4 linked regions of the Homo sapiens genome follow. The protein of the gene in region 1 purifies or fractionates together with the protein of each later gene. This does not show direct contact. Each region holds a gene or a part of one and is shown on either strand. Other genes may lie near its edges. The genes, in order: KCND2, KCTD2, BAG1 and KCTD5.

Evidence for each region.
Region 2: the proteins of KCND2 (region 1) and KCTD2 purify together in Homo sapiens (affinity purification with mass spectrometry; 2 studies listed by BioGRID and IntAct, with this or other methods). This does not show direct contact.
Region 3: the proteins of KCND2 (region 1) and BAG1 purify together in Homo sapiens (affinity purification with mass spectrometry; 2 studies listed by BioGRID and IntAct, with this or other methods). This does not show direct contact.
Region 4: the proteins of KCND2 (region 1) and KCTD5 purify together in Homo sapiens (affinity purification with mass spectrometry; 2 studies listed by BioGRID and IntAct, with this or other methods). This does not show direct contact.

The regions. Positions count from the first base shown.
Region 1 is NC_000007.14:120,276,164-120,283,201, forward strand, and holds part of KCND2 (A-type voltage-gated potassium channel KCND2), read left to right. Parts: intron 1-7,038. UniProt on the Homo sapiens protein: Voltage-gated potassium channel that mediates transmembrane potassium transport in excitable membranes, primarily in the brain. Mediates the major part of the dendritic A-type current I(SA) in brain neurons.
Region 2 is NC_000017.11:75,057,209-75,064,246, forward strand, and holds part of KCTD2 (BTB/POZ domain-containing protein KCTD2), read left to right. Parts: intron 1-2,301; coding exon 2,302-2,397; intron 2,398-4,911; coding exon 4,912-5,037; intron 5,038-5,809; coding exon 5,810-5,839; 3' UTR 5,840-7,038.
Region 3 is NC_000009.12:33,251,945-33,254,720, forward strand, and holds the end of BAG1 (BAG family molecular chaperone regulator 1), read right to left. Parts: 3' UTR 527-2,776; downstream 1-526. UniProt on the Homo sapiens protein: Co-chaperone for HSP70 and HSC70 chaperone proteins. Acts as a nucleotide-exchange factor (NEF) promoting the release of ADP from the HSP70 and HSC70 proteins thereby triggering client/substrate protein release.
Region 4 is NC_000016.10:2,699,519-2,706,556, reverse strand, and holds part of KCTD5 (BTB/POZ domain-containing protein KCTD5), read right to left. Parts: intron 6,737-7,038; coding exon 6,641-6,736; intron 4,205-6,640; coding exon 4,079-4,204; intron 1-4,078. UniProt on the Homo sapiens protein: Its interaction with CUL3 suggests that it may act as a substrate adapter in some E3 ligase complex. Does not affect the function of Kv channel Kv2.1/KCNB1, Kv1.2/KCNA2, Kv4.2/KCND2 and Kv3.4/KCNC4.

The sequences.
Region 1 (7,038 bases):
ACTATTATTTTCATATGAATAGATACTTATGGTGTACATTTTTCCTCTAAGAACCATAATTCCTATTTTACATCGTAATACATAGATTGTAGATGTAATTATCAAAGTATTTTATAATATATATGCACATATTCATATGTATGCACTTTAATTATGGTTGATAGGTTATTCAGTCTTTTAGAATATCAGAGCTGAAACTGATCAACTCTACAATATGCAGTGGAATTAAATTTGCAACATATTTCAAGCTCTAGGTTCATAGTTTCAAAAAAAGAAGCAAAAGACTGTCATCCACACATTTTTTTTTAGAATCTACAGATCCCATCAGGCAATGGGTCCACACCCATTAAATACACATAGAAGATAGAGCAGTATCTGGTAAGATTGATGGTCACCAAGGCTGGCTGTATTATAAAATTTGGGGTCCTAATTTCCTTTTAGAATTTTTTTGTGAATTCTTTTTTGGGGGTATAATGAAGTTCTGCAACCAAAGGGACAAATTTCTGAATTCATGCTGTTGTTTTTAATATACTTTTAGGGCTAGAATTAAGTTTTTTTAGGTAGTAGAGAAAAGGAAAGGAGGCAAATGATTAATAATGTTAAACTGCAGAAAAGTAGCAGCATTTTACATATTAGAGAATCTAATAAAATAAAATGGTTAGATCTTTTTACTTTTATGAGTTCTTAGATAAGCTGGGGAGTGATGTGAGTGCCTTTTCTTCAGCTTTGTGCTACTATTCTTGCATAGGTAATCAGTTTAGTGAGGATTTGGTAATGGCTATAAGAAAAAAGTTATTCCCAAGGCTACTCTTTAAGCTTTGTGTTTTTGGATAATTTAATTGGCTTCTTTAAATGACATTGTGGTTAAAGTCAACTTAATTTTATTAGACATATTGTGTTGTACAGAATTTCTCATGTCATGTGGCCAGCTAATGGAATAGTTTATATATGAAGAATTTTAGGCTAGGTTAAACAAGAAATTGGGGTAAAGAAAAATACAATGATTTATGATTTTTATTTAGTCTCATTTTTTTAAAGACCTACTGGTACATTTAAAAAATGAATTAGTGAAAATCCATGTTCTACTTCTTATATTTCCTTTTTATCTTGTTGGCAAATTTGTGACAGTTTATAAGGATAAGGATGATGCAGAATGCCTTCGCAGTGTAGGTGCTGATTCTTTATCAAAGAGGTTTGTTTTTGTTGTCTTGTCATTTTGTAGCAGGAGATCCTTATTAAGGACAAATGGGTAGTGCAAATCACCATCATGACGTCAAATTAGAAGTACACTTGAATAAAAAAGATTCTGTTTTAATAGGAAGGGAGAACTATTAAAATGAAATACACTTTAAAAATTTGGTATATATGGCTGTGTTTCTTGAGGTATCAGTGAATCATTTTAATGCTATATAGTGTCTATATGATTGAATATAGGTATAAAAAGAATGTTGATGAGAATTCTAATTTCATATAGCTAATAGTTCTATACTAGACTTGAGAAGTTAGCATTATTTTAAAACTTGTTTCTGGAAATGACTTTCCAATTTTTATTTTATTTTGAAGCTTATTTTTGTTTCAAGGAAAATATGAGACAACATTAAACATTAGTGACAATTTTTTATTATGTAAATAAAATACTTAAAAGCACCCATTTTTGAAAATATTTAAGAAATTGAATTATATTGCCTGAGTAAAATCTATGCAGTGGATTTAGTTCACATGTTTCATAGGTAAGTAAGTGGATTAGAAGCATTGAATACACACGCTTTCTCAGAACTTGGAAGCTAAGTGGAAGTTACTTTAAAGACTTAGCTTCACTGAATTTGAACATTTTAATTTTCAGGAAATTAAGCTAATTAATGATCCTGATGGAATAGAGCAGTCATACTTTTAAGATGTGGAAATGTCGATGTAATCAAAATGAGAACATATATGGACACTTGACAAATCATATGCTTTATAATATAACAGAATTTCATAGAAAAATGTCTTTAATTTCTCATCAAAATGTATTATGTATTGTACCCTGAAGAAACAGATTCTTATAAGCCCTGCCTTTTTGGTGCCATCTTTGTGACTCAGTTATTTAATAATACAAAATATTCAATAAAAGCCATTGCCTAACTTTATTGTTTAGGCTGTAGTTCTATACTTAGAGGATGAAGTGTAAGGTGCAAACTTTCTGGGAAATAATAGTTGAAGCCAATATCCAACTATGTCTGAATGATTATCAAGAGTTATCTGAGCTCTTTTTATGGGGCTATTAATTTTAATGGAGCTAAATGTTCTTCAATTAGTGATAATAGAAGTGAAAATGTGATTGTAAACAGTGGTTATTGAAAGTTCCATCTCGTATGAACGTTATCTACATGAGAATAAATAACCAAGAGCTTTGTCATTCAGGACTGGCAGAATCATTTGCAGCTTCTAGAGTATTTTAGACAATATTCAGTTGGTTTTATGATCTAAAGAACTGAGTGTGTCTATCTTAGAACCAAGGTGTATTTGTATCACCATTTTATTTGCTCCTTGAAATATCAAATATATCAGTAGACTATAACTTGACTATGCTTACTGTATAAGTCATTACTTAATCTATCAGAAAAATGAACGCTTTAAAAATAGTTTTCAGGCTACTTAATTTCCTACTAAAGTAGGAAACATAGAAAGCACAGTTTAAAAAAAATGAAAAAATAATGTCAGAATTTTTTTTAAGTGTTTAGATTGAGTAATCAGGTAGCTCTGTTCCTCCATTTCATCCCTTCTTTCTGAGCGCATTTCACAGGTCCCTGAATCACCCTTTTATCCACCCGGCTCCCCTTTCCATAATGTAAACTCTAGTTACTGCCATTAACTGCCTTATTAGAAAAAGAACCTGGAACTCCTCTTTTGTCCTAAAGTCCTTTGGAAAATAACATCCAGTTGTTATTTTTCATTTAGATTGTAGTACTCAAATCTTGCTAAACTTAGGAAATTTCCAAGTGTTCACCAATAATCAAAAACTATTTTGTAAAAATGTACTAGACAGTGTCAAGCTTCAGTTTACTATTGCACCTCATACACATGATCTGGAAATTAGAAGTGGTACCAGGTGGCACATTAAATAATTGAAGGGTTATTATTATGTTAAGTAATATAAATATTTGCATTCTTGGTCTTATTACCATTTAGACAATTTCTTTAAAAGAAGGGATCATATTACTCATAATATAAAACTTAAGAATTTCAGGAGTGTTATTTTTGTGGTTCATCTCACTTTAATTTTAAAACAAAATTGTTTTCATCAAAGTGTTCAATATGGGAAAGTTGCTACATGGCATTTCTGTAAAGTTTATGTTTAGAGATAAATTTTATTATTTTAACGATATAAATTATATGCTGATTTCAGAACAAATTTGGGAAAGTAAAAATTTAATTTGTATTATATATTTATCTAAAACAAATACGGTGGCGTTACATCTTTGCTGCCAGAAAACTTAGCATAATTGCCATATTTCAATTTTTGTGCGTTTGGTGAATTACTATTTTAAGGAACAACAAAAAAGCAGAAAAGTTTTCACTTAAATTTTCATAGCGATGTATCAGGGAAATTCCTTTTTTAGAATGGCATACTTTGAAATAATTTATCATATGCATATATATGATCATATCTATGATATACGATAACATTATGTTATAATTATATATTATTAAAGAGAAGGATAAACTTTTAAATACTATTCTCCTGATACCTGTCAGTATTCTGATTATATAGCTTTGGGTAATGATGGGAGTATATCTTGCAGAATCATTTATGTAGAGACTTAAAGTTTACCCAGCTGTTACTGAAATGGGTGAAATTATCTTCCCTTGTGCCAACATCTATACATAACTATTGCTAGTGCATTAATATAAAACTCTTTAAAAGGTAGGAAGTACCAAAATTTATCTTTCTGGTGAAGTGCCATAATATGAGTAACATCTATTTTTATTTTGACATACTATGACATATTTGTGTAAAGTTCTTTATAGAAAATGTTAGTTGATGGAAGTTGAAAATGAACTTTTAAAGAAATGTAGAGAAATGTGGTATGTATTCCTCTTTTAGCCTTACAAGTAACCAAATCTTATGTGTCTTCATTTTGTTTTAGCCATCACTTGAATTAGAGACAATATTTGATGTGGAATTTAAAAATATGTATGTTAATCCAGCCTGTAGTACTTCAGCATTTACTTGGTTGCCAGACAGAGGTATTTCAGAAAAGGTTTAATATGTGTTATTTCAACATAGTACCCTAGAGAAAACGCTATTTTTAAATTTTCAGTGGGTCTGTTATGCTATTCTTTTTTATTTTTAATTTTCCTTTAGACTACTGATAAACTGTCTTATTTTATTTTTATATTTACATCATTTACTTCTGAACATTCCTCTCAATTATACTCATCTTTGAAAATGAGTCACAAAGTTCAAATTTCTTATTACCTGATCTCTACATTCCTAGTGGAAGAAAAGTGACCCATCATTTATTTAAAATTAATAATTTTGTTCATTTAAGAATTGTGTGGCTTGTCCATAGTTACATAATTGGATAGCAGCAATATTTTTTGAAATTTCACTTTTATGCTCATTTTCTTCTGAAGACCCTAAAACATTATCTAGAAATGTGTTATAATAATTATCGGGACTGCTGCTGATTATACAGGGATAAGAGAAGGAATACATTTGCTATTTATTCTATTAATGTAGTGCATTTCTCCCTTAGTTCTATTGATGTGACTCATTCCACATTCCTCAATATCACTGCTGGCTCTGCATTTATTCAAACAGCACTGGGGTTTATCATAATGGTGCCCATCTGATATAATACAACCTTGTATTCTCATCCAGTGAACTTTCAGGCCGTTTGGCGGCAAACTACTCAATGGTGAATCTTTTACCTGGCCTGATGGAAAAGAATTCAGTTATTTTGCCCTAATTTCCTGAAAGAGTTGGCCTATGAGTCATTAAAAATATGCAATTTAACTTCTCTTTCATTGAAAGAACACAAATGGTGAAATAAACATTCACTGAAAAGGAAGTATATTTTTTCCTTTAAAGTTGTGATAATGAATTCATTCCCTTTCCTCCCTTCTACTCTCCATATGTCTTATATTGTTTTCTAAGCAGGGATACACACACACGTATGCATGTATGTATGTATTTATGTACATATGTATGTATAAGCATTGCTCTCCCACTAGCTTCTGCAGCTAGATTTGATGATGTGGGATAGCGTCTGATATTGAAAAAAAAAAAAAAACCCCAGGGTGAAACACCATTTTTGTGCATATTTGCACTGCTCTTTGAATGTTTTGCCCTTTAGTTTTCTCCTTTGAGAGGCAGCCTTTACGTTGACCTTCTCCATGAAGGCTTTTCAGCCCCCTAAGCAAGCCTACGTCATTTATAGTTGGAATTGTGCTTGATATTAGTAAGTGTCATTTTTATATATAATTTATGGTTTTACCTCTTGACATTCTAACTAAATTGAAAGGCTTTTGAGGTTTGAGTGTATACCTTCTGGGGAGTTATTACCTAGTTCGGTGCTCAAATGTAGGAAAATATCTATGTTAATGTGTTGCTGATCATGGTGTGAGATGGCACTTGTACGCCATGGAGAGCTCCTTAGCCATGGAGCTGTGCCATCTCAACATTAGCAATAATCTGCTACTCTTAAGCCAAATTATTTTGCTTTGTTCAATGTTAAAAGTATTTACATTTGTTATTTGAACATTTTGTCCTCTCATCTACTAAATGTACCCTTTTAATTTTTCTCTTTTTGACTGGGAAGGGCTGTGAGACCTCAACTTTTTCATCCATAACTAACTACTCTGCAAAGGCTAGAATTAATGGCTACCAGTTGCCATTTTCTTGAACAGTTTGATTTCTGGTGAAGTCCAGGTAAATTGCGGATGCCTTTGGGAAGCATATGGAGATGCTTCATGATATAGGTGAATCAACATAGAAATATACTACCTTCCCTTGAAAGCCCAGTTCCTTATGTAAATACGAGTAGCTTAAAAAGCCCATGGGTCAACAGATACTTTGATGATGCTTCATCACTAGAAAGGTGTTCTCTCTTACCAGTAACACAAGCTGGAACTCTTGTTTTTCATCCAGGTTTTCTCATTTATGCATAAAATAGAATTTTTTAAAATAGGGAAATATTGTCTGTAAATGACATAGGAGATAGATGCAATTTCTGTCAGGAAAAGCTCAATGTAATCACCATCAGGAAGAAGTTAACATTCTAAGAAATTAAAAGGCAGATTACAAAATGTAAAGATAAATGTAGGTATATATTCTAGCATAACGCAATCCATTTTGCCTTGGGAATTTTGACAAGTCTATTATGTAATGATCTAAATCATTAAAAGTGTGGGGGGAGTAGGGAATGAGTTCCTAGAGGTTAATAATGGGAAAAAATAACATTGAAAGAGTAGGATGACAGTTGAGATAATGTCAAATAGAATGGGAAGATTTTGTTCTAAAAGTAAAAGGTCTTGTCTTTTTTGCTTTTATGTGGACCTAATTCTTCCGTCTTCTTCATTTTCTTCACTTTTAACAATATCAGTAATAGTGCTCTTGGAAACCCAAAATAACACCAGTAACATACACTCTCAGGGAATCAGACTGTGGCTCACAGAGTTCAATTCAACATAATAGACCTTTGTTGATCACTTGCTACCTGTCATTGACCACAGCAGTAACCAAAAGGTCAACTTTCTCACCTTAGGAACTATTTAAAACTAAAATAGTGGAAGAGTCAGAAATAAAAATGTAAATATATGATATAATGCCACGTAGAGATGAGTGCTATGAACAAAATACATCTGGGTAACAAGCCTGCTATTTTGCATAGGGGACAAACAAGGCTTTTCCAAGGGGTTGGCATTTAAGCCAATGGCTGATTAAAGTGATGAAATGACTTTCTGACTATCTGGATGAAGAGAATTAGAGGAAGAGAGAAAAGGAGTACAAAGACTTCAAGGTGGGATGAAGTTTCATCAATTCTATCTAAT
Region 2 (7,038 bases), on another chromosome or scaffold:
CTCCCAAAGTGCTGGGATTACAGGCGTGAGCAACCATACCCAGACTCCTATTTCTTAGAATAGTATTTTTTGTAGGTGATTGATCCTGGTGCATTTGAGAGCACAAGTGGTTTACTTTGGAAGGGAGAAAAAAGAGGCAGTATAATGGCATCTTAAATACCTGGGACTTTGACAGCTGTGGCCAACATCACAGATCTTTTGTGATACTCTGAATTTTGTACTTATACAATTGGTTTCCAAAATAAGTGGTTACAACCAATTAAAATCTTCAGAGGATTTGTACTATATGTAATATGGAAGGAAATCTTTGAAATCCTTAGTACTTTGGTTAATGATAGCTATACCTCTTTTTTTTTTTTTTTTTTCCTCGAGGCAGAGTCTTACTCTGTCGCCCAGGCTGGAGTGCAATGGCGCGATCTCAGCTCGCTGCAACTTCTGCCTCCGGGGTTCAAGCAGTTCTCCCGCCTCAGCCTCCCGAGTAGCTGGGATTACAGGCACGTGCCACCTCACCTGGCTAATTTTTTGTGTTTTTAGTAGAGATGGGGTTTCACCATGTTGGCCAGGCTGGTCTTGAACTCCCAACCTCAGATGATCCGCCCACCTCGGTCTCCCAAAGTGCTGGGATTATAGGCGTGAGTCACTGCACCCGGCGATCGTTATACCTCTTTTGGAAGAAAACATAGAAGAAAAAATACAGCATTGTCGGCCGGACACAGTGGCTCATGCCTGTAATCCCAGCACTTTGGGAGGCCTAGGTGGGTGGATCGCCTCAGGTCAAGACCAGCCTGGCCAACATGGCGAAATCCCGTCTCCACTAAAAATCCAAAAAAATTGGCTGGGCACAGTGGCTCATGCCTGTAATCCCAGCACTTTGGGGGCCCAAGGCGGGCGGATCACCTGAGGTCAGGAGTTTGAGACCAGCCTGGCCAACATGGTGAGACTTCGTCTCTACTAAAAATACAAAACTTAGCCAAGCGTGGTGGTGGGCGGCTGTAATCCCAGCTATTCAAGAGGCTGCTGAAGCAGGAGAATCGCTTGAACTCGGGAGGCGGAGATTGCAGTGAGCTGAGATGGTGCCATTGCACTCCAGCCTGGGCGACAGAGCGAGACTCTCTCAAAAAAAAAAAAGGAAAAAAAAATAAAAAATTAGCTGGGCGTAGTGGCACATGCCTGTAATCCCAGCTACTCGGGAGGCTGAGGCAGGAGAATCGCTTGAACCAGGGAGGTGGAGGTTGCAGTGAGCCAAGATCACCCCACTGCACTCCAGACTGGGCAACAGAGCGAGACTCCATCTCAAAAATAATAATAAGGCTGGGTGCGGTGGCTCATGCCTGTAATCCCAGCACTTTGGGAGACCAGGGCAGGTGGATCATGAGGTCAGGAGTTCAAGACCAAGCCTGGCCAACATGGTGAATCCCCTTCTCTACTAAAAATACAAAAATTAGCCAGGCTTAGCGGCAGGCGCCTGTAATCCCAGCTATTCGGGAGGCTGAGGCGGGAGAATCGCTTGAACCGGGGAGGCGGAGTTGCAGTGAGCTGAGATCGCGCCACTGTACTCCAGCCTGGGCGACAGAGTGAGACTGTGTCTTAAAAAATAATAATAAATAGGCCGGGCGCGGTGGCTCATGCCTGTAATCCCAGCACTTTGGGAGGCCGAGGCGGGTGGATCACGAGGTCAGGAGATCGAGACCATCCTGGCTAACACAGTGAAACCCCGTCTCTACTAAAAAATACAAAAAATTAGCCGGGCGTGGTGGCGGGTGCCTGTAGTCCCAGCTACTTGGGAGGCTGAGGCAGGAGAATGGCGTGAACCTGGGAGGCAGAGCCTGCAGTGAGCCAAGATTGCACCATTGCACTCCAGCCTGGGCGACAGAGCGAGACTCCGTCTCAAAAATAAATAAATAAAATTATAATAATAATAAATAATAATAATTTTACCTTATTTTTGACTTGGGGAAATGGATTAAATCTAAGTTTGTTGGCATAGTTGCTCAAGCATTCATCCCTCTGAAGTTCAGAATTATTTTACCTTTTTTATTCTTTCACTCTTTGGATATGTTTTTATTGAAAAGCCACAGTATGCTGGCTTGTGGTCACTTAAAAAGAAAAACATTTTTTAAAGAGAAGGGAAAAAAAGAAACGCCACAGTACTATTTGTAAAAGGGGATAGTGGGTGGCTGCCAAGAAAAGATTTCCAAGCAAACTCCTTTTCAGTGTTTATTCATTTGAAGAGCCTCCTTGGGGCAGCTGCAAACTGTGGTGTCCTTGGTGCTGTTCTCAGTCTGCGCCTGGTCATTGCAGGGCCCCGTGAAGCACGTGTACAGAGTCCTGCAGTGTCAGGAAGAAGAGCTCACGCAGATGGTGTCCACGATGTCCGACGGCTGGAAATTCGAACAGGTACATCTCTTAACAGAGCAGCAATCCCAGGCCCCGTTCAAGGGGTCTGCAGCTCTTCAAACAATCAGTGTGGATGGCCAATTAATAACCACGGGAGACGGCTACGGCCAGGTGGGATCCTATTCCAAAACATGGGCAAAGAGCCATTTGGTGGGCACTGCTGGCCTAGTGGTGCGTGAGGAGTTGGGGAAACAGAGGAGCATCATGTCTTAGCTTCACACGCAGACTTTCCAGGGGAGCCAACGAGCAGTTTAGGCTTGAAGTGCCTCAAAGCCTTTGGTTTTTGTTCCCTCACAGGGATCGTAGAATGAGTCCCTAAAGGAGACTGGGATTCGACAACAATCCTTCCATTTCTTTTCCCAGGGTCAGAACTTTTTGGTTCTGAATGTCTTATGTAATCCACCGTGAAGAGCTTGGTGAACAGCTGTGCTAGGAAGGATCAGGCGCCATGGGAAGTGTGGTGCGGCCGTTTCCCCTACTTCTCTCCGCCTCGTGCTTACGACTGAGCTATCAAAACAAAGCTATGACAGTTGGAGCTTCACTGTTCTCCTCCATTAGATGGCAGACTTGTTAAATTCTGTTGCCTTCAAAACATAGGAAGGCCAGAGCGAATAGAGTAAATACAATTTTTTTTTTTTTTGGAAAGTCAAATCCCTTTCTTCATTCCATCCCTTTTAGACATGGCATTTAAAACAGACATTGCTACATCACTAACTTCCCACAAGCTGTGGTGTCCACTGGAAAAATGTAGTCCTTGATATTTCTATTTCACATTCAAGTGATCCTCTGCCACTTATTAACTGGTTCACTTCAATTTCAAAAAGCCAAAAAAGTCCTCTAACATAAGCCTTCCAAGGTGATACTTTCAGAAACCAGGGTTGGAACTAACCAGACAACAGCGCGACAGCCAAGACCAGCTGCTCTTGATGCCCTTTTCACTTCTGTGTTGTCCTGGTTGAAGTTGGCAAAGAGCAGCTGGCCGGCGCCGGCCTCCCCGCTCTGGCTCGCCAGGTTCATGGCTGGGCGCGTGGCGAGTGGGCCCGGCCAGGGAGGGCGCGCGTGCGAGGGCGGGTCAGGCTGCACTCAGGGTCTCGGTCGCCGCCACTCGCCACCCTGGGATCAACCGCCTGAGTAAATATGATTTTATACGGATTATGCCTACTTATGTGTAGAGTTTTAACAGGTCAACAGCTGTCTCACCAGATGCTTACCTTCTAAAAGAAAACTCACACTTTGCATTAATGCTGTTATCTCACAGATCAAGTGCAAAGCTGTCTCTGCCTTCAGAGCCAGCGGTGATTATTTCTCACACTTAGCTTCCACCACGGAATCCACTCTGCCTGTGTCTGTCATCCTGGTTCTTACTGGGCATGGGTTGTAAAACGTCGCCAAGAGTTTAATGCCCTCCACTCCAGAAGTATTTTTCCTAATATGAGCTCTTAAGCAAAGGATTTTTTTAATGTATTCTTTGTGAAACTAAAATGAATAATTTCTTGTTAATTTCTCATCTTATTACTGTCCCGTGGGAAGACGGAGGGTGTTCCTATTGCCTCCCTTCTGGATGAGGAAGTTTGTTTCAGACAGGCGGAGGCGCCCCCAGCCCCATCCTACCACAGTCAGCCATGCCGCCCATGTGAGGCCTCGCCTGCTCACTGGGATGCCCTCACCCTCTGCCTGAGCTGCTCCCCTGCGTGTGTATTTCCTCTTTAGAATTAAATTCTGAATTCTATTATCCAAAAAGGTTAAAAGTACCAGCATGCTGGGCACGGTGGTTCACACCTGTAATCTCGGCACTTTGGGAGGCCACGGTGGGAGGATTGCTTGAGTCCTGGAGTTCGGAGACCAGCCTGGGCAACATAGCGAGACCCCCCTTCTCTATCAAAAATAAAAGAATTAGCCAGGCATGGTGGCTGTAGTCCCTGTAGTCCCAGCTACTCAGGAGGCTGACGTGGGAGGATCACTTGAGACCAGGAGGTGGAGGCTACAGTGAGCTGTGATTGCACCACTGCACTCCAGCTTGGGTGACAGAGCTAGACCCTGTCTGGAAATAAAAAGTACCAGCAGCATATGACTTCCAGTAGCTGATCAGTGATTGGCTCGGTGCTTTCCAGAGCCTCCTGTCCCCAGTCTAGGGCTTCTGCTGATAGAGGAGCCAGCTGTGTGTGTGACTGAGGCAAATGTCCATTTTGTTGGCAGATGCGTTCTGTCTTCCCTTGCTGTGCTCGACGGGGCGTGGGCATGTTAATCCTGCCGCTGACGGGGGGGGACTTCAGAGCTTGGGTGAGGGGACAGTGGAGCTCATACTCTTCCTCCTGGGGAGGCCTCACCAATGATGCCCTGATGAAGAACAGGCCCATTTCTCCCCGGGGGCTTTGGTAGTCACAGAGAACTCATATAAAGAGTTAAACCTTTGATAACTTAAAAGTTCAGTCGGAAGAGGGGTGATTTGTGTAGCACTTTCGAAAGTATGTTAAGATTGCCACATGAATGTTCACTGTATTCTTGGTTCATCAGCTCATCAGCATCGGATCTTCCTATAACTACGGCAATGAGGATCAGGCAGAATTCCTCTGTGTTGTCTCCAGAGAACTAAATAATTCTACCAATGGCATCGTCATAGAGCCGAGCGAAAAGGCGAAGGTAAGGAGCCCCTTCCCTGGGCAGTTGCCTCTGGCTTGCTTGTTCGCACCCCCTCCGTGGGCTTTTCCTGAACTCTTGCTCCTCACTTCTTCCCTGGCCTTCTAGAGCCAGCGTTGCATTTTCCCCTCGTTTTGTTATTTTTGACTGTTGTAATTTAATTGGGATTTACGGAGCACTGACAGGTGTTTTTAGTTAGAAAATATGAACCTAAAAAGGGTAGACTTTCTCCATCCTCTGCCAAATCAATGAAAAAGAAAAGCTGGTTGCCACTAATTACTACAGGGTAGGATTTCTGAACTCAGACTTGGAAGGTATTTTGATTTATTCTTTAAAACTGTGCTTTTTTCACTGCCTCAGGAGAAAAGGGTGTTTTCTTACCTTGGTGACCTTTACCTCCCTTAAGTTCCTGGAAAACTGTTTCTTTTCCCTCCACTGTGCACCCCCCTCACCCCCAACACACACACACACACACACACACACACACACACACACACACACAGCTTCTAAATCGTGGATACCAGGTAAGCTGGAACCACTTCCTTTCAGTTGGCAAAGCTTTGGTCCAACAGCATATAAGCTTTAGACCCAGCTGTGCCCAGCAAGAGAGTGTTTCGCACCAGAAGCACTGCGGGTGAGGCTGCGGCTGCACCCCTGCTTGCTTCCTGGGATGACAGGACCATCATGCCACTCATCGGGTCCAGTGGAAAGCATCCCCCGACATCTCTGTCTTTCCCTCAGCAGCCTCAGCCTCTCCCCCATCTCCAACTTTCAGATTCTTCAGGAGAGAGGATCGCGGATGTAAACTAAGACCCCGAAAACTCCAGACCTTCAGGAGAGCAGTCAGCAGAGCCCCTCTGTGAAGTGAAACCTCACTCCTGTCCAGTGACCGAGCCACTGCAAAGCACAGCTGATCCTGGCCCCCTGTGAAGAAGTGTTCTGGTCAAAACTAAAGGAACTCCCTCCCCACCTGCAGGACTCCGAAGACAGTGCGACTTCTGGCTGCAGAATACCTTTTCAGAAACCTGCTTTCATTTGCTTAGCCAGTATTAGAACAGATCTTTACAACAGCAGCTGGGCTGGGTTCCCAGTCGGAGCCTTTCGGGGATCTGGGGGATGAGGGCGGAAGGCCTAGCTCCTTGGAAATGGCCTGTACTTTAAGGACGCTGGAGCCAAGAGGATTGTTCCCGTGCCGTGCCATGGTTTCACCCTATGTGTGCCACAATGGACGTTAGCAGCTGCTTCGGAACACCGTCCCTCCTATGCACCCTCCAAGACGTGCAGCAGATGCAAAGGGTTCTAGCTGCAGTTTGTCGAATTGAGGTTTTAGGTAAAGCATAGAGTTGCCAGAGTACCCCGCATTCCCATGAATAGAGCCTCCAAGGAAAGGGAGGATGGGGTGTCCTTTGTTGTGGTTGGAGGTTGGTGATCATTGCTCTGGATTTGGGGCTCCCGGCTGCCACCACATGCAGCTTTGCCTCACCTTTCTCCAGCAGCCGGGACCCTCTGGAGAGCTTGTTTTCCCTCCAAGAAGAGGTTTGAGACAGGCGGCATCCTGCACTGAGTCAGACAAGTGGGAGCTGTAGGAACTGCACCTGCAGCCTCTTCTTACTCCCCATTGACCCTGTCTTCCTTCCCTGGCTTTTTCAACTGGACCAAAGATGAAGGCACTTATGGACCCTTTGATGGCTTGGAGTGGGGAAGGCTGTTTCTTTGAAAGTTGCCAAATGTGTTATGTTGTGTCTCAGAGAGAGTTATTTCTGTGACTCTCTTGGAAATGCCTTGACTGAATGTGCAATATTTGTGTCTCTTGGTTTCTAACCTTGGCGGACCTGCTCCCCTCTGTACTGTCCCCAGTGGTATGTATGTATGTGCTAGGCAGTCTGGGGACCCCCTGTGTCTCTGACCACCCCCCTGACCCCCGCCATTACTTTCTTTTCTGGAGTGCCATGCTGGCGAGGATCCGGATGCGGCAGCACCCTCTTTCGGGCTGCATCCACAGAG
Region 3 (2,776 bases), on another chromosome or scaffold:
ACGGGAGAAGAAGGGGTGCTCTCTCCCCTTCTCACGGGAGAAGAAGGGGTGCTCTCTCCCCTTCTCACGGGAGAAGAAGGGGTGCTCTCTCCCCTTCTCACGGGAGAAGAAGGGGTGCTCTCTCCCCTTCTCACGGGAGAAGAAGGGGTGCTCTCTCCCCTTCTCACGGGAGAAGAAGGGGTGCTCTCTCCCCTTCTCACGGGAGAAGAAGGGGTGCTCTCTCCCCTTCTCACGGGAGAAGAAGGGGTGCTCTCTCCCCTTCTCACGGGAGAAGAAGGGGTGCTCTCTCCCCTTCTCACGGGAGAAGAGTTTCACAGGCAGAAACCCCTTGGGTGAGCAGATCTGCGTGGGTGGGGCCTGTGCAATCACCTATCACATCTGCCCAGCAGTCCATGCATTAGGGCCTCTTTTCTCAACCCTTAAGACAATAAAGGCTGTTAAGGCTGTAAATTCCAATGCTGACGGAGATTCTGAGGCCAAATGCAGCTATAGAAGTTTCACTATTGATGTGTGCATTCAACATTCATTTGTTCTCCAAATATTTATTGAGGTCTTACTATATACAAGACTATATAACAAGTTATGCTTGTTATATATGTTATATATGTTATGTTATATATATATATGTTATATATGTAATATAACTATATTACAAGTTATGCTTGAAATAATGCTGTTACCAAGATAAAGAAGCTCCTTCACCCAAGGAACCCTGGTGTTAAAGGCAAAGATTAACCAAATAATCCCACAAGTAAACTATCATGGACTATGTAAATGCTGTGAAAGAAATGTATGGGAAGTCGAGAGAGGATCCCACCTGGGGGCTGGACAGGGTCTCAACACAGTAGGTGAGGGTTCTCCATGCAAGAGACATGTGAGTTGAATTCTGAAGGATGAACAAAAGTCACCTATACAAGGGTAGGGTTGGAGGAAGGAAGGTGAGGAGCTGTTCAAGCAGAGGTAGTAGCAGGAGCAAAGACCCCCAGGCAGGAGAGGGTGCAGTGCATCTGAGGACCTGAAAGAAGAGTGGCTGACAGCAGACAGCCAACAAATGAGGGGGTTGAGATGAGATGGGAGAAGGCATGGGGTAAAGACTTTTGCCTAAAGAGAAAGTGAGCCATTGGAGGGTTCTAAGCAGGGGACTGACATGGCAAGATTTGCACTTCATGATCACTCGGGCTGCTCTAAAGAAAATGAACTAGAGCAGAGAGGAAGTGGGAGCTAGAGGGAGAGGCAGAGGACAAGAGGAAAAAAATCAGAGAATGGGCCTGTGCAACCCTGTGTTGGTTGAGAGGCAGTACAGTAGAGGGGAAAAGCACTGGCTCTGAAACCAAACCACCCAGCTTTGTGTCTTGGCTTTGCCGCTTACTCTACAACCTTGCGCTAATGACCTAAGTTCTCTTGGTTTCCTCATCTCTAAAATAAGGATATCTGTCTACCTCTCAAGTTATGTAAGAATTAAATGACTAATATATATGAATAGTTTAGAATGGTGTTCGGCAGTTTGGTGCACAGTAACTTCTCATTAAATGTTGTGGCCCACGCCACACAGCTATCACACAAAAATAGATCAATAGTGAACCACTCTGATTAAAGTTGGGGTGCGGTGGGCTGGGACCCGAGCCTTGTCCACAAGTCTACCTCTACTACCTTGTCTGAGGTCTTAACCTGCCCAGTCCTGAATTCCTGGGACTTCAACGACTCTCTCTCTGCCAAATGATGTGAGTCTTTAGGTAGAGTTATAGCGCAAAGGGCTACTATCAATGTTATTAAGCATAAATTATGACTAGAGCCACAGAATGATTTCCTCATTAATCCAAAAAAAAAAAAAAAAGCAAACCACTCTTCTACTTTATGATGAGCACATAAACAGTTTTTTTTTCTTTTTATTTATCTACTTTTACTTACTTAAATTTTAGAGATGGGGTCTTGCTATGTTGCCCAGACTAGACTCAAACTCCTGGGCTCAAGTGATCCTCTAGCCTCAGCCTCCCAAGTAGCTGGGACTACAGGAAGGAGCTACTGCACCTGACTCAATTTTTTTTTTTTCTGAGATGGAGTCTCACTCTGTGACCCAGGCTGGAGTGCAGGGGCGTAATCTCGGCTCACAGCAACCTCTACCTCCCAGGTTCAAATGATTCTTGTGCCTCAGCCTCCCCAGTAGCTGGGATTATAGGCACATGCCACTACGCCAAGCTAATTTTTTTTTTTTTTTTTTTTAAAGCAGAATGGGGTTTTGCTATGTTGCCTGGGCTGGTCTCAAACTCCTGGCCTCAAGTGATCCGCCCGCCTCAGCCTCCCAAAGTGCTGGGATTATAGGCATGAGCTGCTGCGCCAGGCCTTAATTTTTTAAAAACAATGATGGGGTGGGGGTGGGGGACAGTCCACAAAATGGATAGAACAGCTGTGAAGGAAACATAGAACTCAGAAGGATATGGTTAACAAAAATGCCTTTGAAGGAAGCACATGTCACTCCTGAGAAGTTTATGGTTGGCTTCACCACCTGCCTGCTTTACTCATTCTGGTGCCTTCTCTTTGCCCTTCCTAATCCATGGCTCTGGCCTGGTTTCAAGCACAGACTCAGTCAACACTGGGTTCTAACCTTCTGAAGACTTGCTTGGGGACAAGGAAGCCTTGCATCAACCACAGGCTCCATCCAAGGAACGGCCCCCTGGTATCTCATGGCCTGTGGCTAGTCAGGGTCACTGGGAGGTGAGGACAAAGTCTAGAACCCAACAACCCAGCCAGATGCTCTGGAATTAGGTCACAATGAGGG
Region 4 (7,038 bases), on another chromosome or scaffold:
CAGGCTCAGGCGCTGGCCAATGCTGCTGAGGTGAACTCCCAAAATGAGCCATGGCAGCTCCAGAGACCAGGTGGAGGGGAAATCACCCCACGCTCCCGAGCAGAGAGCTTCGGAGCCAGCCAGCCTCACTGTGCGTGGCCCACAACAGCTGTCTCCATGTGTCACGTGAGGGCTGCCCAACACCAGGTAGGGCAGCAACGCCCACGCCCTCGCCGGGCACAGCCTCCCAGAGGTCACTGCCATGCCGCACTGACCGGAGAGAGGGCAGTGGTGAGAGGTGCATGCCACCCCAGGCTTGTTCCGAAGGCTCCTGGAGGCCACGTCCCCTGAGCTGCTCAGCCTGACTCCAATACTCCACCCCCCAACAGCTCTGCCGTTCCCAGGCGGGTGCCCCCCAGGCTCAGTGCCCTGGACCACTTCTAGCTCGAGGCTCCCACTCACTCTCCAGTGCCTCGGAGGAGCCCATCCCCCTGTGCGAGGGGCAGCACGTCCCTCCCTGGGCCAGGGTGATTCCCAAGTTTACTGGGATGTCTGGAGTTGACTTGGGGAGACAGTGCAGCCCCCAAGCCCCCACCAGCCCTGTGTAAAACTAAGTAGCGCAGCGGACAGGCCAGGAGCAGTGTGGCATCTGAGCATCCGGGAGCCCCAACAGCTCCCTCCTGATGAGGGCAGGAGACACCCTGGAGACCTGCAGCCAAAGTGCTGTCCTTCGCCCTCCCAAGGCCGGGAGCAGCACGGGCTACTCTAGACAGAGCCTGGGGTGAGACCCATCTTTTCTGGACACACTGTCTCCCTAGGCCATCTTCCACAGGAAGGTCCAACTGCAGACACCAACCAGGGGGCCCTTGAGGCTGTACCCCATGGCCAGACACCCCCACAGGCAGGCAGGCCCGGGTGGCTGAGGGGCTTGCAGGACACGGCTGGCCTGGGAGGCTTAAGCGCATCAGGGATGCCGCAGGATTTGGCAGCTGAGATAGGGGTCTGCTGTCTGCCGCACTGGTCCTGACCCCTTGGCCCTGAGCCTGTGGCCTAAGCCAGACAGGAAGGTCACCCACTAGGGCTGGCGGCACGAGTGGCACTCCCTGCCCAGCCCCCAGGAGGGGCTCTTGGGTTCACGACCACTGATGTCCACAGCCTGGCCTGGCACGGGCACCCTCCAGTCATCCCAACAAACGCCCCAACACTGCCCCTGGGCATCTGCCTCACAGCAACAGCCCCACCACCAAGACAGTGCTACTGAGGATCTACAGCTGGCATGGAGTGCGGACGGCTCTCGTCAACTACAGGCAGGGACAGACACACAGGGAGGGTCTGTGGCAAGGGTCAGCTGGGGCCATGGGGTCAAGGAGGCCACGGAGCTCACCATGACATTCACACTTAATCTGAGCCACTCCCTGGGTGCCCCTGGTCCTCGTCGTCACTCTGGCGGCGTGCAGCGCGCAGTGGGGGAGAAGACAGGCTGTCAGGACAGTGCGGGTGGGCGGGTGCCCCGGGCCCAAACCCCCACGCCCGGTGACCTTCCAGTGAGGCCACGCCACGAGGGGACACACAGGCTCAGGGGCTCTGCCACATCTCAGAGGTGGAAACCTCCACGTGTGAGGCGGCTGCATCTTGCGATCCGGGGCTGGTCCTGTCCCACCATGTGCTGAGGGGCTGAACCCTGTCCAGAGGCGCCTGGCCTCTGGCCCCACTCCTGGCAGGCGGCGCTAGCCCACAGATCTCGGCCTGATAGGAGGGCCTCTGCTGCGTGGGCTCTGTGGACCCCACTGCATTGGCCCCACTGCTGCAGGAGGGAGGGTGGGGCCCTGGGTCACAGGAGGGATCAGCCACGGGGGCAGGCGGTGGATGCACCCATCGAGCATGGCTACGCAATGGAGCCCCAACACCACCAAGGAACCCCCTCCTCAGCCGCCCAGGCACTGGGAGACCCCGGCCTCTGCCCAGGTGCCCGCCCTTGCTGATCTGAGCCTGTCTCTCTCTGTTCCTTGGGAATAAATGGCGGCCTTGAGTCTAAGCGCTCTCAGTGAGCTCTGCGAGTCCTTCTAGCAAGTTCTTGAGGGACTGGCGTGGGAAGCAGGTGTGCTCATGTGTGGACCGCCTTCACTTGCTACAGGTGCAACCCCTCCCGCCCCACCACCCAGGCTCTCCCGCCGCCGCTGACTGAAGTGGGGGACAGCTGCCCAGCAGGGCCAGGCCACACATGCTGCAGGGACACCAGCGACGAGGGCCCACAGCCCATGCGGCCCTGCGCAGCCCAGCCAGGGGTGCCCCCATCACGGTCCTCCAGCTCTGGCCCCCGCAATCCCCCACGGCCTCCTGAGGCTCTGGCCTGAGCTCTGCCTCCTGGGGCACTGCTGACACCACCCCCATCAAGAAGCCGCCATAGCTGCCCCACTTCAGAGCAGGTATTTTTGGAAAATGAAATAGGGCCACATTCTCAACCACAAAGGGATTTGGGGTCATGCCTGGAGCTTCCTCACAGTACAGAGCGTGTCCTTTCTGCAGCTGCCAAGCCACCTGAGGGATAGGAGCCCAGGGGAGCTTGGTTATAAAAACTCAGCTCAGAAATAAAAAACTTCTAAAAATAAAACCATTTAGAAAAGAGCCCTACGATTGCTCCAAGAGGAAGAGAAGTGCCTCCTTGTGACTGAGCTGGGGCTCTCAGGGAGCCAGGGGTCGCCTCCTAGATCCGAGACTCAAATGGAAGAGCATCTCCGAGCCTGGCGGTGGAACCCCAGCTTCCACCCCGGCTGTCCCACACCAGGGCCTGCCCCAGCCTACACTGCCTCGGCCTCGAGGAACGGCAGTGGAGCAGGACTGGCCTCTGCCCACAGCAAGAGCACAACGGGTGGCCAGCGAGGGAGGCTCTGGGCCAGGACAGTCGCCTGAGGTGGAAAGGCTGCCGTGAGCTGGCCGCAGGCCTCCGAGAGACATGCTTGGCGGCCCCACCCCTCTGTTCCCAAGGGCATACCTCCAAAGGCCTACTCGGAGAGGCTCACGGGGACAGTCCTGGGCTGCTGGTGGCCGGCCAGAGGCCCCCAGCCAAGAGTCTGCGGTTGCCCAGGTGTCCCTGGTTTAATGCCACCAGTTAAAAGCCTTCCGGTTCTGGCCTCTCATGGCACCCACTCAACACCCTTTGCCAATGCCCCGAGCCTTCGCCCCAGGCTGGCTCCCCACAGAGCCCGCCCCACCACCCAGGCTCTCCCAGACCCACGCAGACCCCAGCCAAGAGCTCTCCAGCCACCACCTGGCTCTGAGGTCCGGGAGTCCTGCCAGGTGCAGCTGGCCCAGGCCAAGGTCAGATTCTGCTTGGATGGACGCATTTGTCCATCTTGGAGCCTCAACCTTAAGAACGTGCTTAGAGGAAATGCCACCAGAATGGGTCACCTGTGGGCAGGGCCACAGGGCCAACCTGAAAGCAAACGAGGCAGGGGTCCCTGCATTTCACCCCAGCTGCCTGCCCCGCAGAAAACAGAAGGGCCTGAGCCCCCGCAGAGTCTGCGCCGGTGCTGCCAGGCTGGGTGCCGCAAAGGGCCTACTCTGTGCAGCCTGAGAATCCCAGGGCCTGCAGGACACCCTCCTCTCGACAAAGATGAGGCCCACGTAGTGGCTGAGCCAGGGTACCCACCCCTGCACTCAGGGATGGCCCAGACCCCCACCACGACAACTGGACCCCCATGTCCCTGCACTCAGGGATGGCCCAGACCCCTATGACAGCCAGGCCTCAGCATCCCAAGTCCTCACTCACACAGCAGAGGCTGGGCCCGGGGAACAGAGGACCCTGGGTCCCCTGAGACACAGCCCTCAGTGGCATTCCTAAGAGCATGGCCCCTGCAGCAGGCCTGGGGCCCCTTCCAGGAGCAGCTCTGCATGCAGGCTGGGAGGCCGCAGGGGCTTACTGGGAGCCTGTGTCGAGAGAACCTGTCCCACGGGAGACCGTGTGTCCAAGAAGTCAGCAAGGCCACCAGGGGCGGACACCGGGAGCTTGATGAGAATGGCAGAAAAGGAGGAAGGTCTGAGAGGGCAAGAGCCTTCCCCACCCAAGACTGCCCCAGGCCAGGGCCGGCCCAGCACTCACCTTGGCCTTCTCGCTGGGCTCGCTGGCCGTACCGTACGGGGTGTTGTGCAGCTCCTTGGACACCACACAGAGGAACTCGGCTTGGTCTTCGTTCCCATAGTTGTAAGAGGAGCCGATGCTGACCAACTGCAAGGAGACATAGCCTGAGACGCAGCCCAGTGAAGCCTGAGAGACCCAGCCAGGCTGACATGACCAGCCTCAGGACGCGCCTGCCACCGCGAAAGCCACAGCAAAGACTGCCGACGCTTCAGGAAATGGATGGAAAACAAATCCCCGGAACACCTGCACGAGCACACGGGGCGGCACCCCACGCCGTGGCATGGCATGGGGCGAGCTCTTCCTCTGTGAGGACCCTGAGCTTTCCTTGGCGCTTCCAGCTGGGCCAAAAGGGGCTGCTGCCCCAGGGGGACGGAGCACAGACGGGTCCCTGAGCTGGGGCGGAGGGAGGGGGGCAGCGGGAGGAGAGTGGAGGGCGGCTCTGAAAACCTGGAGGGAAGAGCCTGGGACCAGCTGACTGGACCGAAAGCCGCTGGAGGAGCTGTGCTGTCCAGGAGTTCGGCCAGGGCGGGTCTGCTGCAGCCTGCTGGCCACACCCTTAGGCCACTCCAACCTGCCTCCCTCCGGGTCACCAGGCAGGCCAGGCCAATGCAGGTCCAGGGCCAACCTGTCTCTCTGGCCAGGCATCTGGCCCATGGCTGGCTACCCTGGGCCACCAGGCACTTCTGTGCTTTTAAAGGGAAAATTAAAAGGCAATACGCAAATCACAATAAGCATGACAGCAGCAGATGACCAAGCCAAAAAGCAGCTGGACGAGGCTCACACTTTGGCCTCTCTAAGACCTGCGCAGTTGGACCAACGGCCGGGAGAGCAGCCCGCAGCTACCTGCTGCTCCTGTATAGCTGGCGGCTGACCCAGTGGGCAGCAGTGGACCCAGCCCAGTGAGGCGGCCACAGGGGTGCCGGCATGGGCCCAAGCAGCTAAGGGTACCCCTGGGAGCACTCACGGCCATGCCCCCCGGAGCCCCTGTGTCCTCACAGCCACTTCCAAGCCCTGCTTGCAATCCCCTGCTGACCACTGGGGACCCTGGGTCCGGTCTGGCCACCTCCCAGCACCCCGCAGGGTCCCACCCCACAGCCGGGACAGCTGGTCAGCCCAGCGGCTTCCCTACATGAACTGGGAGAAGGGGTCCCCAAGGGATGAAGCGTGCCAAGCAGGTCGTAATCAAGGAAGGGGGAGGACACCCGTTCTTTGCAATGGGTTTGGAATCCACCCAGAAGTGCTAAGGTCGAAGACCTGAAGCTGCCCCGGGAGGCAGGTGCCCACCACGGGCAGGAGACATTGTTCCCTCCCAGCCAGAAGTCACAAGACGGTGGCAGAAGAGCACAGGTGCCACATGGGGACAGCCCTGTTCGCGGACCCCGAGCTGCTGACACGGCTTCCCAGGGCCCCAGCCCCACCAAGGGACAACTGGGAGGTGGGGCTCGCCCAGCAGCAAAGATTTCTGTTCCCGTGGGAGGCTCTGGCACGATTCTGATGAGGTGCAGGGCAGGGACCAAGCAGCTGGTCAGCAGCCCTGTCAGCACAGAGACCCAGAGTCACCCCGGCCCCCGGCCTAGGGGTCCAGGGTGGACGGTGGGACACAAATGTTTTTAGTGACATTTTAAGGGGGGGGGGGCTCCAAGTACCCTACAATGTGATCTATTATTTTGAAAGACTCCAAGGAAAAGGTAGCTTTCATTCAGAGGGACACTGGCTGAGCCTGTCACTCCCACAACCTGGCAGGCGCACTGGGCCATGGACAGAACCTGCCCCAGACAGAAGCAAGTGACAGAGGAAACTCAGGACAGGGAGGGCTGGGTGAGGTCACTGTCCCCACCCTCAGTGTCTGTCTAGCACCAGGAACAGTGGCAGCCAGGTCGTGGGCAAGGGCCCCCCGGTCAGAGGCCATGCCTCACGTGTCCTGAGGTCCCCGATGACAAGCCACAATGCCATGGCACAGTGGCCCATGCAGCACTCAGGTGGCTTCCGTGGAAGCTGCTGAAGAAGGCATGCCCTGCACAGACCCATCAGACCCCACCCGCCGCAGCTTGCCAAAACCAGAGAGAAGGCAACGAGGGCCTGGCAGCACCTTCCAGCATGGGCGGGAAGGGGAGGCAGCCTGGGAAAGGCGTCAGGGCCTCCATATGCTCCGATGGAGTGAGCTGTGGGGGACGGGGATTGCGCTGGATAGTGGGCTGGCCAGGAGGCTCTGGGGACGCCAGTCCCCTCCCTCACACAGAGGTGCCAGATGATGCGAAGAAAGCGCAGCGCTGGGAAGAAGAGGCAGGCCAGGGAGGAGGGGAAGGTGCGGGGCAGAGCCTGAGACACCTCTGCCCACCCCACCCGAACTCCCAAGGCTCCTCCAGTGGAAACAGGGCACAGGTCGCTGCCGTGAGCACCCCCAGAACTGCAGGAAGACGCCAGCAGCAAAGTCTGCATTTCCAGGAGCACTGAGCCCTGAGCCATTGTGAGCACAAGTTCAGCTGCAGCATGGCTGCCACCAGGCTGGCCAGGGCCCCTCACCTGCTCGAACTTCCAGCCGTCGGACATGGTGGACACCATCTGCGTGAGCTCCTCCTCCTGGCACTGCAGCACACGGTACACATGCTTCACAGGCACCTGCAAGGACAATGGGCACAGGTAAGGGCGGGCCACCCATGTCCCACTGCTGCCTGTGGCCCCAGCCCAGGTGACCCAGGGAGGCTGAGGTCCACTCTGCAGTTCTCAGCACAGGGCACGAGGCCCAAAGCAATCCTGAGCACATCCACAAAAGCAAAACACGCGGCCCGAACAGCTGCTGTTTTCTGCTTCCTCGTTCGCCTCCAAAAATATTTCTATTTCTAAGTTCCAAAATAAAATGAGTCATGTTCCTGAAATCCCAAGAGCACCTGTGGCTCGACATGACGACACGAGAGCGTCCA